Homo sapiens: one gene and its partners. The protein of the gene in region 3 interacts with the protein of the main gene of each other region in a pairwise test. Each region holds a gene or a part of one and is shown on either strand. Other genes may lie near its edges.

Evidence for each region.
Region 1: the proteins of CFAP298 (region 3) and TAF1 interact in a two-hybrid assay, tested with the Homo sapiens proteins (one large-scale study listed by BioGRID and IntAct).
Region 2: the proteins of CFAP298 (region 3) and GMCL1 interact in a two-hybrid assay, tested with the Homo sapiens proteins (one large-scale study listed by BioGRID and IntAct).
Region 4: the proteins of CFAP298 (region 3) and MAPK6 interact in a two-hybrid assay, tested with the Homo sapiens proteins (one large-scale study listed by BioGRID and IntAct).

The regions. Positions count from the first base shown.
Region 1 is NC_000023.11:71,369,093-71,372,856, reverse strand, and holds part of TAF1 (transcription initiation factor TFIID subunit 1), read right to left. Parts: intron 1-3,764. UniProt on the Homo sapiens protein: The TFIID basal transcription factor complex plays a major role in the initiation of RNA polymerase II (Pol II)-dependent transcription.
Region 2 is NC_000002.12:69,870,943-69,874,706, reverse strand, and holds part of GMCL1 (germ cell-less protein-like 1), read right to left. Parts: intron 2,963-3,764; coding exon 2,875-2,962; intron 1-2,874. UniProt on the Homo sapiens protein: Possible function in spermatogenesis. Enhances the degradation of MDM2 and increases the amount of p53 probably by modulating the nucleocytoplasmic transport.
Region 3 is NC_000021.9:32,605,675-32,609,438, forward strand, and holds part of CFAP298 (cilia- and flagella-associated protein 298), read right to left. Parts: intron 2,043-3,764; coding exon 1,975-2,042; intron 1-1,974. Other genes in the region: CFAP298-TCP10L (uncharacterized protein LOC110091775), read right to left, coding at 1,975-2,042. UniProt on the Homo sapiens protein: Plays a role in motile cilium function, possibly by acting on outer dynein arm assembly. Seems to be important for initiation rather than maintenance of cilium motility.
Region 4 is NC_000015.10:52,043,108-52,046,871, reverse strand, and holds part of MAPK6 (mitogen-activated protein kinase 6), read right to left. Parts: intron 3,095-3,764; exon of another isoform or gene 1,208-3,094; intron 1,043-1,207; 5' UTR 412-1,042; coding exon 1-411. UniProt on the Homo sapiens protein: Atypical MAPK protein. Phosphorylates microtubule-associated protein 2 (MAP2) and MAPKAPK5.

The DNA of each region.
Region 1 (3,764 bases), on a different chromosome or scaffold from region 3:
CAACTTCCTACTACTAAACTTCCATTATGTGCCAGGCATTTCTAGCTGTTTTATGTATAATCCTCCCAATAACACTTCAAAACAGGAATTATCCTGAGATACGGAAGAGACTGAATTTTAAGTGACAAAATCAGAATGCAAGCCTGGTTTAACAACAAAGCCTACACTCTTTCCAACACAATTCCTCACTCACCAAGCCCTGTATTTTTTTTTTTTTGAGACAGGGGTCTTGCTCTGTTGCCCAGGCTAGAGCACAGAAGCTCAATCATAGCTCACTGCAACCTCCAACTCCTGGGCTCAAGTTATCTTCCCGCCACAGCCTCCTGAGTAGCTGGGACTATAGGCAACCAAGTCCTACGATACTTTATCAGTATCTTCTAAGTTTGACCCTAGCTATCTTTTTTTTTTTTTTTTTTTTTTTTTTGAGGCAGAGTTTCACTCTTGTCACCCAGGCTGGAGTGCCGTGGCATGATCTCAGCTCACTGCAACCTCTGCCTCCCGGGTTCAAGCGATTCTCCTGCCTCAGCTTCCCGAGTAGCTGGGACTACAGATGTGTGCCAACACACCCAGCTAATTTCTGCATTTTTAGTACAGACAGCATTTCACCATGTTGGTCAGGCTGGACTCGAACTCCTGACCTCAAGTTATCCGTCCACCTCAGCCTCCCAAAGTGCTGGGATTACAGGCGTGAGCCACCACGCCCAGCCTGACCCTAGGTATCATTTTCTACAACTGTCACCCTACTTCGGACCTTAATAACTTTACATCTCTAGCCTGCAAGAACAGCCTGCAAGTTGGTGTGACATTCACTCTTTTACTAATCAAAACCCCAGAGCGACAAGTATCACTCTTCTAAAGCCTCAGAAAGGGAAGCCTCTAAGACTGTAAACTAGCAAAGCAGAAAAAAAGGAAAGCCAACTAATATTTACAGAGCATTTACCATAATATTATACTATGTGCTTTTACATCATGTGATAATGAACTTCAATTCTCACAAAAGTGTGAATATTATCACCTTTACTACAGACAAGAAAACTGGGGGATTATTACAAATGAGAAATCCAAGCCTCAGAGATTCAGCAACCTGCTCAGGGTCACACTAAATATGGAGTTGGAATTTGAATCTATGACACTCTAAGCCTAGGACACTGACTCCAAAATCCTTTTCTTTTCATTATACCATCCTGCCTCTCACTCAACAGTCTATGTTGGTTTGCAATTCCTTATGTCATCAAATCCCAAGTAATGCATACATAAAGGTACTGTGAAATTGCTCTATCCTTGGTTCTTGCTATTTGGCAGCATGTTTTCTACTCCTTTCAAGAAAACCTACTGGCTAATTCCCCCTCCACACACACTACTTGCTTATTTCTAAATATCTCCAAACCTTTAGACAAGCCGTGTTTCCAAACCAAAATCCCCTGCTGCTCCTTCTCCACCAAACCTTGCCTCACTTTCAAAATTTTACTCAAAATTCACCTCCATGAAAGCTTTATTAGCAATCTACACCCACTTCCAATTATTCCAAAGAAGCACCCTTGTAAACCAAGCCATGCAAAGGAGCCAATGCCAAGGAAGGAAAAAACTAAGGGTATAGGTGAAGGCACCCCTAGAGGACAAGAGAACTTAGAAATGAGCATCCCAGAGTACTGAGATTCTGTCAAATGTAGCATCCTCCTTTTATAGGAAGTTAGCTCATAAAACTCACCTAGGGAAACTCCCAGCCTTTTCCTTACCATCCCTAGTCAAGACAACAAACACAAACCTGGAAATTATAACTTCTACTGAAAATAACTGCCACCATGTCCCCCCAGTCAGGGTGCCCAAAAATGACAGCTATTGACTTACCTATTCTTGCAGCCCATCAAAACTAAATGTAACACTCTATATACAGAAACATGATCTCATAGGTGGTTTGTCTTACTATGAATAATTGTTCTGCATTTGTTCACATCATCTTCCCCAAAAGATAACAATATCCTTAAAGGCAGGGCTTATATCTTCTATTTTTCGTGGGTTACTTTTTGTATATGCAACACAGTTAATTCTTTTCATATAAGTAGCACTCAAATCCATAAGCTGTCCCGAAAAAACTAAGTTCAAGTATTTACCAAGGTTTTATCTACATTTATCAGAAGCCTGAAATCTAGTTCGAAGAGGTGGACGATGAATAAATAACGAGCAACTTCACATAAAAGTTTCAAGCAGGCCAGGCGGGGTGGCTCACACCTGTAATCCCAACACTTTGGGAGGCAAAGGTGGGCGGATTACCTGAGGTCAGGAGTTCGAGACCAGCCTGGCCAAGATGGCGAAACCTCATCTCTACTAAAAATACAAAAAAAATTAGCCGGGAGTGGTGGCACATGCCTGTAGTCCCAGCTACTGGGGAGGCTGAGGTGGAAGAATCACTTGAACCCGGTAGGTGGAAGTTGCAGTGAGCTGAGATCACACCACTGCACTCCAGCCCTGGTGACAGAGAGAGACTCTGTCAGGTGGGGTGGGGTGGGGGAGTCTCAAGCAGTGAGAGGTAGAACAGGGCAGTGCCAAAAATGAACTATGGACCAATACCTCTAGATTCCAGACCACTAAATTGAACTTCTCAAGATCAGAAAATGGACTTCATTATCTTTTGAGACAGCATTTAGCTCTTGCCGCCCAGGCTGGAATGCAGCAGCATCATTTCGGCTCACTGCAACCTGCCCCTCCTGGGTTCCAGCCATTCTCACGCCTCAGCCTCCTGAGTAGCTGCGACTACAGGCACACGACATCATGTCCAGCTAATTTTTTTATTTTTAGTAGAGACGGGGTTTCTCCATGTTGCCTAGGCTGGTCTCGAACTCCTGGCCTCACGTGATCTGCCCACCTGGGCCCCCCAAAGTGCTGGGTTTACAGGCCTGAGCCACCACACCCAGCGGACTTCATTATCTTTGAAACACACTGCCTAGGCCAGGCACGGTGGCTCATGCCTGTAATCCCAGCACTTTGGGAGGCCGAGGCGGGTGGATCACGAGGTCAGGATATCGAGACCATCCTGGCTAACACAGTGAAACCCCATCTCTACTAAAAATACAAAAAAAAAAAAAATTAGCCAGGCGTGGTGGTGGGCGCCTGTAGTCCCAGCTACTCGGGAGGCTGAGGCAAGAGAATGGCATGAACCTGGGAGGCAGAGCTTGCAGTGAGCCAAGATTGCACCACTGCACTCCAGCCTGGGCAATAGAGCGAGACTCCGTCTCAAAAAAAAAAAAAAAAAAGAAACACACTGCCTATCAGTTTAGAGTACATAACAAGTGCTCAAACAATGTCTAACGAACTGAGCTAAATTAGTCAGTCTACTACTAGCTAATTGTATTACTTTTGATAAAATCCCACATTTTATTATAAAGTTCTCTAAAGTTCAAGTTTTCCTTTTCTACTAGAGATTACGAATAAATAATTCCTAAGACTCCTTCCACTCACTGACTCTACCTTCTAAGTCTGATGTTTTGATTCTACAATGTAGCACCCTATACCAGAGAGGAAAAAAACATATTTGCAAGCAGGTATCAAGTTCATTGTTTTAGGCAGGGTGCGGTGGCTCACACCTGTAATCCTAACACTTATGGAGACCGAGGGGAGCAGGGTCACTTGAGGTAAGGAGTTCGAAACCAATCTGGCCAACATGGTGAAACCCCTTCTCTACTAAAAATACAAAAAAATTGGCCAGATGTGGCCGGGCGTGGTGGCTCACGCCTGTAATCCCAGCACTTTGGGAAGCCGAGGCAGGC
Region 2 (3,764 bases), on a different chromosome or scaffold from region 3:
TATAAAAGCTGTTAAAAATTAGCAAGAAAAAAATGAAATTTTAATAAAAAATTAAACAGGAACAATATAAGCTGTCAGTTTACATGAGATGATACGTTCAATAAGCATAAAAAAACCCAACAATACAGTAACCAAAGAAATGAAAATTGAAAATTAAGGGCCAGGCGCGGTGGCTCACACCTGTAATCCCAGCACTTTGGGAGGCCAAGGCAGGTGGATTACTTGAGGCCAGAAGTTCAAGACCAGCCTGGCTAACATGGTGAAATCCTGTCTCTACTAAAAATTAGTGCACTCCAGCCTGGGCGACAGAGCAAGACTCTGTCTCAAAACAAACAAACAAAAAGAAATGAAAATTAAAACAAATATTTGTTTTCACATTTACTACGCTGGGATAGAGATGAAAAAGAATAAGATACAATATTGGGTATACTCTCCTGTACTGCTGCCAGGGGGAAGTATAAATTGGACAGTAGCTTTGGAGGGCAATTTGGCCATTAGAAAATTGTATGCACCATGCAACAAGAATTCTACTTCTTGGAATTTATGCTTTAAAAATATCATAAAAATGGACAAAGATATATGTATATTTCCTATAGTAATGAAAAAAAATGAGAAACAACTTTATCCAATAAAGAGGAATTATCTAAGTTACGGTATAGCCAAAACAACTAATATTATGCCGTTCATAAAAATGATGCTGTGAATATATATTTATTGACCAAAAAAAGCTATGTACAACAAAGTGAAAAAAAAAAAAAAAGGTTACAATTACTACCTCACTGTCTGATGCACCTAGGCTCACCTGGCCTTGGGCTCTGAAAGAGGACCAAGCCTTTCTTCTACTGGGCCCAGGCCAGGTGACCCCATTTTGCCTCTCCCCCAGGCCTGACCACTATGCGACCAACAAGTTCTCCCAGGCCACTGACTTGGCCATGAAGAAGACAGAGGACAACAATGCACTTGTGTTCATTGTGGATGTCGAGGTCAAAAAGCATAAGATCAAACAGGCTGTGGAGGAGCTCTATGACACCAATGTGGCCAAGATCAACACCGTGATCAGGGCTGATGGAGAGAAGAAAGCCCATGTTCAGCTGGCTCCTGAGCATGCTGCTTTTAGAGGCTGCCAAAAAATTGGGATCATCTAAGTTGAATCCAGCTGGCAAATTCTAAATATATATGTTTTTCACCATTAAAAAAAAAAGCAGGTTACAAAATAGCTAACCTACTGTGATCCAATTTTGCAAAAATGATACAGGTGAAGGAAAAACTCAGCAATGTATCTGAGTGGTACATGTATGATTGTTGTTTCAGCTGACTCATATTTTCTATTTTTTCGACAACATCTATAACCTATATAAAACACGGAGACAACTCCCAAAGTAAATCTCCCAAACTCCATCCACAGCCCTCATGCCCTGGCTCTAGTTATACTGAACTCTTCCAACCATCTTTCAGTTCCTTGAATATGACCCATGTATTCCCTTGCTTCCGGAAATCTTACTCACCATTTGAGGCTTGGTTCAGGTATGCATTCACTTTAACACTTTTCCAGGAGAGGATGTTTTCCCTGAGCTGTCTTTCTTTCTCCTCCTCCTCCAATAACCACCCCCAACCACGGCAGCTGCTCAGTTACAGGTCAGAGTCTTCTCCCTCAAGGTTGCACACTCTGAGCTAATTCTATCATGCTACTTACACTAGGCTATATTAACACAAGCCTGTCTTTATTTCTTCTACTTCTAGCTGAGAACCAAGCACATGGTGGGGACACAAATGTTTGCTGAAGGAACATGGGAATACAACTATTATCTTGGCCTGGTGCTTTTTTAGGTCTCTGGCTGGGTTTGAGCCATGACAGTATTTTTCATGAAGTTTCAGGTAGAAGATAAAGATAGTCATTGTCTGTTCAGCTGCAGAGGTTACAAGAAGGACCAACAGAGAGTTCTGATGGAGGCAGATTTGGACTTTCTCATTATATACCTGCCTTGAAATGGACATTCCTACATATTACCTTTCATGTAAGATGGGGGTCAGTTAGAGTTTCAACAATGGGTGGATGACCCCCTCTGTAAGAATGCTGTTAAAAGAAGTTCTCATATAGGGCATGTGAGGTTACAATGATCACTTCCGGGGTTACTTGCAATGCTAAGGATGTTCTATGATAGTCTCTTCAGTCTGAGGAAAACTACTAACTTCTCATAATTTATGTAAACTATAACAGGCTTTGAATCCTTTAATAAAACATTATGCCCTTTGGAATGATGATTACTTTTAATAGAAATAAAGTTCCTCAATATTTTAACAGCTTTCAGTTTTACTTTTAAAAATGGTCTACTTTCTCATCATGACACTTTGAAACTTCTCCATGTGTGTGATGTATGAATAAATAAATGGCTTTGGAGATAATCTGGGGAACATTGCAGAGTTTGCCATCTTACGAACCTAATGGGCTAGAGAATAATGCTCTTATGATATTCGGAGCTATGGAGACATACAGGATTGTCTTTAAGATGCCTGCTGTGAATGTATAAATAAATGCACTATGTACACAATGGATAAAGCACTTAAGATTCCTAAAATTTTAGGAATGAATTTTAGTGCTGCTGATATTCAGGATAAACAATTATTTCCTTATAATCAGTGTTTCCCTGCCCCTCAAACAGTGTTTTCTTTTTTTCTCCTAATTATGCTTCCATTGGGATGGGGTCAATTATGCATAAGTGAATGTGGTACTTTCATCTTTACCTTCAAAAGACTTTTAAACCAACTTTTAGGTCAAAATGCCATCACTTTAATGTTAATTCTACTTAAGAATTTTCAAAAGAGGATTCAAAAGACAAATATTATGATGACATACCAGAAGATAATCGAACATACCTGATCCTTTTCAAGTGTAAGTATTTGATAGCCAGTTGTTCTACTACATATTAGTTTTCCACTACTATCAAAAGAAGCCAAACGTAATCTAGGATTAAAAAAAAAATAAAAAATAAACACAAGATTTTTAAACCACAGATTAAACAAGCTCTTCCTTACTTTCATATTTACTTTTTCCTCTGTTTTTTATTTGATAAAAGACTTTTAGGAAGTCTTTTCAAACTGTAATCTGACTGCATTCAGTGACAAGCCTGTGCTATTATACATATCTGGCCAAGAGAAATCATTTATAAATGTTTTTATTGTGGTAAAATATACGTAACATTTATCATTTTAACCATTTTAAAGTATATAGTTCTGTGGCATTAAATATATTTCCACATTGTTCTGCACCCATCTCTAGAACATTTTAATTTTCCCTCGCTGAAGCTCCTTACCCATTAAACACTAACTCCCCACTTTCCCTTCCCTCAGGCCCTGGCAACCACCAGTGTATCCTCTGTACCTATGAATTTGTCTACTCTAGGTACTTCGTATGAGTGGAATCTTACAATATTTGTGCTTTGTGAGTGGCTTATTTCACTTGGCATGTCTTCCAGGTTCATCCATGTTTAGCATGTATGAGAATTTGCTTCCTTTTCAAGGCTAAATAATGTTCTATTTTATGTATATACCACATTTTGTTTCTCTAGCATCTGTCAGTGAACATGTGGGTTGCTTCCACCTTTTGGCTATTGTGAATAATGCTGTTATGAACATAAGTATACAAAAATATCTGTTTAAGTCCCTATTTTCAATTCTTCTGGTCTATAGAAGAGAAACTGCTGGATCATATGGTAATTCTGTTTAATTTTTTTGAGGAAGTGTCATACCATGCTCCATAGTGGCTG
Region 3 (3,764 bases):
GTAGTCAAGCTGGACACAAGTATGGGTGGCCTGGGGACCTCACGTGCAGCTGGTGTCTGAAATAAGAGGAGTCTTGTTGGTGATCTCACCCTTTAACTTTTAGGTCTGATGCTAACTCCAGGCAGTTAGTGTCAGAATTGAAGGATCTGCCCTTGACCTGTGGGGTCTGTGCTGTCTCTGAGTAGTTAGTGTCAGAACGGAATTGAATTGACTGGCAGGACCCCCAGTGGGCATCAGAATGCAAAAGGCTACAGGAGAGCCTTAAAGAAAGCCACAGCTGTGGAAGTGAAAGGAAGAGGTGGACTTAAGAGGCATCATGGGAGCAGACGGTACAGAACCCCACTTCAAACCTAGAGGTGACAGAAGGGAGAAGTGTTGAAGATGACACTGAGGATTTGCCCTATAAAACCAAGACACTGTGGTTCTGTTACTGGAAACAGAGAAGCTCATAGGAGGTGCTGATTCTCAGGGACAGAACAGAGAGGGAGAGGAGTGAGGAAGCAAAGAGCTCATTTCTAGAAAACTGGACTTCAAAGTGCTGACTGGGTGTTCAGATAGAACCATCTCACAACCAGCTGGAAATTCAGGTTGGAAGTGAAGCAAGATGTCAGGGGGAAAGGATGGAAGCTTCAGAGTTATCTGCAGAGGGTGGAATTTGCATTTGGCAGAGTAGATAAGATACTGAGAGAGGAAGAAGACCAAGGATAAAAAGTACTTTCAGAAGTACACAGGCAAAGGGGAGAAGTGAGGCGACCGAGAGAGGAGTTCCACAGCAAAGTGTGGGGAGAAGGGTGCAGAACAACAGCCAGACCACTGTTTTCTTGCCATGGCCTGAGACGTGCTCACATGCCTAGATGCCATCACCACGCAAACGACGGGCTCAACCAGGGCCTCTCCTGTAGAGCTTCATAAAGCCTTTCCTATATTAACAGGCACAGAGCTTCAGGGCAGCCTTTGCTGAGGCTCTTCAAAGATTAGTCAAAAGCTTGGTAAGTTTGAGAAATATTGGTTTAAAAATAACAGTTCTGCTGAGCAAACCAGGAGAAGCAGAAGAAAAAGTGGTGATCAGTCAAGAGACTTGCAGTTGAGAGCGGTAGCAACTAATATCACCAACACACAAATACAAGCAACAGATACAGATACCACTTCTTTCAATAGCCTTAAATTCTCTTCCTCCAGATACACATTATCTGTATATCAATGGTATAAATTTACGCTCCTCCCTCTATAAACTAGCCTTTGTATAAAATGCTGAAGACAATTACAAAAAACCATTTATATCAAATACATATTAAGTCAATCAAGTGTCTGGAGAGCTACTCGATGGCCACAATATTCAAATCTCCCCTACTTAACTTTGTTAAGTTCTTCAAAAAGGTAAAAGAAATGAAATCAACATTTGTATTATACATATTTGTATTATACGTGAACCTATATTTACATAAGCCAACAAAAATTTGTGTCTGCCTGGAGGAACGGAGAGGCCTCTGGGCAACCGTCAGGATTATGAAAGGAAAAGCTACAGCCTACCCCAAATACGCTTGTTTCCTTTGCCTCCGGAAGGCTGAAAGAGAAGGCTGGCTGAGAGGCAACTCTGGAAGCCAGAGTTGGAGTTTTATCTCAAAAGACAAGTTTTAGGCCGGGCGCGGTGGCTCATGCCTGTAATCCCAGCACTTTGGGAGGCCAAGACAGGCGGATCACCTGAGGTCAGGAGTTCGAGACCAGCCTGACCAACATGGAGAAACCCCGTCTCTACTAAAAATACAAAATTAGCTCGGCATGGTGGTGCATGCCTGTAATCCCAGCTACTCGGGAGGCTGAGGCAGGAGAATTGCTTGAACCCAGGAGGTGGAGGTTGTGGTGAGCCGAGATCGCACCATTGCACTCCAGCCTGGGCAACAAAAGCAAAATTCCATCTCCAAAAAAAAAAAAAAAAACCCAACAAGTTTTAGTGCATCATTTAAAAAAGCCAACCTTAGATATTATTGCTTTGGCTTCTTCTATAGTCTTCTTTAACACTTGCTTCATCTTCTCATTTGGAGCTATAAAAATAAAAAGGAGAGAGGGAGAAAGAGCTGTCAAATACAAAGCCTCTTCTGAAATACCTCAATCCCCTCTGTCTGAGTCAGGGGGTAAATGAACTGAGAGAGAGTGCGAGTGTGGAATTTAGGGAAGAGAAGCAAGAAACCTGGCTGCCGGAAGTTAGGTGAAGACCTCTTCCCAACAGCAGAGACCTGGAGTGTGCTTTACGCAAAGTGGCAAAGGCTACAAAAAACAGAAATGCATGTCGTTGGGTAAACAGGGCCGGTGAACTTTTTCTGGAAAGGGCCAGAGAGTAAAATTTGAGGCTTTGCAGGCCACACAGTCTTGTTGGGTGGGATAACTCAGCTCTGCCACGTAGCACAAGAGCAGACAATACTTAAATAACTGGGGTAGCTGCGTCTCCTTACAATTTTATTTACAATAGGCAGCTGGCTAAATTTGACCTGTAGCCCATAATTTGGTGACCCCTAGATCAGGAAAAAATAATAACTTGAAAGCTTAGAAGCCAAAAAAAAAAAAAAAAAAAAGAAGAAGATGGAATGCCCAAACCTAGGGAAAATGGGGCAAGTTGAAACCATACATTCCTAGTAAATAACAGTATTAATTAGACATTGAAAATATTAGAAACACAAGATTGTATTATAATAGAAGTGGTTAGGCTGGGCGTAGTGGCTCACGCCTGTAATCCCAGCACTTCGGAAGGCCAAGATGGGTGGATCACCTGAGGTCAGGAGTTCGAGACCAGCCTGGGCAACATGCTGAAACCCTGTCTCTATGAAAAATACAAAAATTAGCCGGGCATGGTAGCAGGCATGTGTAATCCCAGCTACTCTGGAGGCTGAGGCAGGAGAATCACTGGAATCCGGGAGGCAGAGGTTGCAGTGAGCCGAGATTGTGCCACTGCACTCCAACCTGGGTGACAGAGTAAGACTCTGTCTCAAAAAAAAAAAAAAAAAAAAAAAAGGTGGTTAATTTAAGAACATATTACATATTGGTTTAATGATGAATAATGAACTGTTAACTGGTTCTCATATTTTTTTTCCTCATCTTACCACATCTTCTTACGTAAGAAAGCTGTGGAAGACAACCATTTTTCAGGTTAACATTGAAAGGAAAAAATACTAGGAATTCTTACTATCCCTGATATTTAAAAAAATGTATTTTTGAGCTGCTAAAGGCCTTGCAGGAATACTGTTCTTTTACTCCTAACAGTGTTTTAGGGCTGTTCAATTACAGTGTTTTAAATGGCGCTTTTAATGCAGGTTAAAAAGAATAAGCTATCAAAAAGGATTATCATCAATTCCACATGATCAGCCAAACACTGAAAGGAGAGGAATTTCCTCAGTGTTTTGCCGTGTACTGAAGTGCTCTGCCCCAGAGAGAAGCATGTCCTTGATCAGGGAAGTCCATGTGCTGACATGCTTTCCCTTTCCTCTTTCACACAGTCCATCTCGAAAGATCCCCCAACATTTGCGAACAGTAACAAAACACAACTCTGAATACATTGCGGTGAGGACCTGCCAACAATTATTAGGTGGAAACACATGAAATTGCCAATACTCAACCATTTTTGAGCTACAGAAGGGAAAGGGTCATTTCATCTGGTTCGTCGAATACATATAAAAGCAAGCTGCAACTTATTAAAGAGCAAGACAAAAGCTTCCTTTATCTACCTAATTCATCCTAGATTAGAGTTTTACCAAAGGAGCTACAGAGTACAG
Region 4 (3,764 bases), on a different chromosome or scaffold from region 3:
TAGCAGCTGATACATGAAAAGCCTGGCATGCTCTTCCAGTAAAGGGCCCTGCTCCAGCACATTAGCCAAGTCTGTCTCCATGTACTCCTGAACAATGTAAACACTGTTCAGTTCCGTAAGAGAGCCCACATCGTCTGTTAATTGGCTTCCACTGGGACCAAGAATCTCAAACACTTTCACAATGTTATCATGGTCAAGTCTTCTAATAATTTTGATTTCACGTAGAGCATGTTTGACACTCTGGGGATCAGTAAGGACAATTTTCTTGATGGCTACTCTTTTGTCACAGTCATTGTCTACAGCAGAAAAAACCAAGCCATTGCCTCCACAACCCAATGGTTTTAAGTCCATATACCTAGAACCCAGATCAAAACCATGAATGTTCATGAGACTTTCAAATTTCTCTGCCATTTTGAAACCCTTACTATTGCCTTTTCCTTTCAAATTGAACTTGTGTAAACAAGGAAGAAAACTGGCATCAAAAGGAAAGATCTTTCAAAAAGGGAGAAGAAAAATAATTATGCTTCCACAGCAAGATGGTTTCTTGATGTTCATTGCATATGCCAAACAGGCCTGTCGAGTTCCCCTTAGATTTAAAGCTCAAAAAGCTCTATTCATATTGAGAATTAAAAAGATTGCAGTACTCATAGTTCAAGAAAGGGGCAGCAACTCTGCAGACATTTAACGAAAACAAGAAACTCAAACGGAATGAAATGACATACTGTGCACTCAGATTACCGTGCTAAACGATTTAACATTTAACAAAAATGTGAATAAATATGCACACAACAGGCTTCTATGAACATTCTCCTCACAGTGCAGATACATTCAGTGTTGGACTGGTCCTGAGCAGCATCATTCTAAGGTGCTGGTAAGCACTATTTCCGTTTTGCTTCTTTTTTTCCTTTGTTGCTATATATTTATTTCAACAGGAAGCCCTGGCGGCTGTTGGTTAACAGAAGATGTCTTTTGTTAGTGATCAGGTGGCTCCAGCTCACCACAATCACAATCAAAGCTACCGTCCATCTTACTCTGATACAACCTGGGGGGATGAGAAAAAGAAGAGAGTCACCATTGCAGGAAATACTCTTTTCTTCAAATTTGTAGTATGACACAAAGTAGGCATTTAGCAATAAACTACTACTGGTACATTAAACTTAATTATGGTCATTAAGTGACAAATTACCCTTAATCAAAAATAGCTTACAAAAATGTTATCAGCAATTCACACACGTTGGCCCGGGCTCCAGATTTCACTACACTAGATTCTTGGTAACAGGCTCATTAGGTTGTACCATTTCTGAAATGCCAACAAGTATGGGAAGGTTCATAATATTTTTATAGAACTTGAGTTTTGTGAGGGGTAAAACGTTAGTAACATCTATCTAAATATCTAAAAGAATATAGAAGAAGCCTGCAATGTGTTAGTTTGTTAAAAAGCATGTTTACTTATTAACTATGCCTATCAATATCCAATGAACAAAAATCTAACAGCACAAATATGCAAATAATGTTCTTCAACTTATAAGAGTAAACTTGAACAATGAATAATACCTATGAAAAGGTATTTAATGTGACTGATAGGAAAAGATTACCTTAAGAGAACATTTCAGATTGAAAAAACATGCATCTCTGTTAATGTCAAGTCTGAGGAGTGTAGAAAAACAAACTTTCACACAATAGTGGTTGGAGTTTAAATTAGTAAAAACTTCAGAGCAATTTGGCATAAACATATAAATGAATAAATAAATAGCGTACTCTATGACCCGGCCATTTTTCTTCACAGTAAACTCCCTAGAGAAATGCTCATTTTTTTTTGGTAAAGAAAATTAGAAACAACCTCAACTTCATAAAATAGGAGAACAGATAAGTAGTTATATGCATGCAAAATAGTTTTTTTTGGTAAGTACATATGTATATTGCAAAACTAAAAAAAAAAAAAAAAGGAAAAAAAAATGAGACAAATACCAAATTCATAATGATTACCCGGAGATTAAGGAAAGAGACCAGAATCATTTATCTGCGTTTTAATGTGTTATTTATTTTAAAATAACAAACATGGCAGATTACTAGAATCTTATAGAGCTGGGTGGTATGTATATGAAGGTTCATTATATTGATCTCTGTACACTTAAAATATTTCATACTTTAAAAAATATCCTATAAAAGGGCAGGAAAAAATAGCCTCAACTCCAGTAGATGGTTCCCTAGCCAGCCTGGAAAAAAAAAAATGCAACTTGGTTCTTTCAGTTTCTTAATGGCCTAATTGCAGAGTACCCAGAATACCAGATATGAGGCATTATGGAAAATCAGGTGGTCAGAATTCCTAACAAATAAGACCAGACAATATTTTAGGCAGAAAGAATAAAGCCACCAATTTATTCGTTTAATATATAAACATATATTGAGCAACTACTATATGCTAGGCAGGAGCAAACCTGATATGAGCAAAAGGATTCTGGCCCTCAGTAAACGCAACTCATTGTCCAATAGGAGAAAGACAGCTTTAATAAAAACTGATACTTACTATATCCCTCAGTTCTTTTAATAAATAAGAACGGGTCTTGTATCTGCTTAATATCATGAAGGATACTAATAGTATAATAGCTTTATTTTACTGTAACAGAAACGGCTTCTCCTGTCTACAAGTTTTTCTCTGCTTCTCAGAAATCAGCCCTCCTAGCCCGCCCCCCCAAAAAAAAAGTCCTAAAAATTCTGTAGCTTACCAGTCTATCTGTAATAAAACACTTAAAAGTTGAAGTTTGTGAATAAACTTTTGAATTAAAAAAATATCTCAAGGCCGGACACGGTGGCTCACGCCTGTAATCCCAACACTTTGGGAAGCCGAGGCAGGCAGATCACGAAGTCAGGAGTTCAAGACCAGCCTGGCCAATATGGTGAAACCCCGTCTCTACTAAAAATACAAAAAGTAGCCAGGCGTGGTGGCGCATGCCTGTAGTCCCAGCTACTCAGGAGGGTAAGGCTGGATAATCGCTTGAACCAGGTAGGTAGAGGTTGCAGGGAGGTAGAGGTTGCAGTGAGCCGAGATCCTGCCATTGCACTCCAGCCTGGGGGACACAGCGAGACTCTGCCTCAAAAAAAAAAAAAAAAAAAAAAAAAAAAAAAAAATCAAACAACTTAAGTCCAACATATCATTTGCTATTATCTAGCTGAGCCATTAGTCTGTCTTTGGTCTTTAGCCAGTGGATTTTCAATGTTGTTATATGATCTAGCTCATGTGATAGTGGAAATAAGTAATAAAAATAAATTTTTGTGGCCAGGCGCGGTGGCTCACGCCTGTAATCCCAGCACTTTGGGAGGCCAAGGCAGGTGGATCTCCTCAGGTCGTGAGTTCGAGATCAGCCTACCAACATGGAGAAACCCCGTCTCTACTAAAAATACAAAAATCAGCCCAGCGTGGTGATAGGTGCCTGTAATCCCAGCTACTCGGGAGGCTGAGGCAAGAGAATCGCTTGGACCTGGGAGGTGGAGGTTGCAGTGAGGTGAGATCACGCCACTGCACTCCAGCCTGGGCAAAAGAGCAAGATTCCGTCTCAAAAAAAATGAATAAATAAAAAATAAAAATAATTTTTGTATTGGTAAAAAAGTTTCAGATTTTTAAAAAGGGCTTTAATACTGCATGTCTCCCTCCCACCAAGTTTTTTCTGTTTGTACACATCTTGATTCTTCCTGCTCGCTCCCCACTAAATACCCTAGGAAAACCAGTTTGTTTGTTTTTTGAGACAGGGTATTGCTCTGTCATC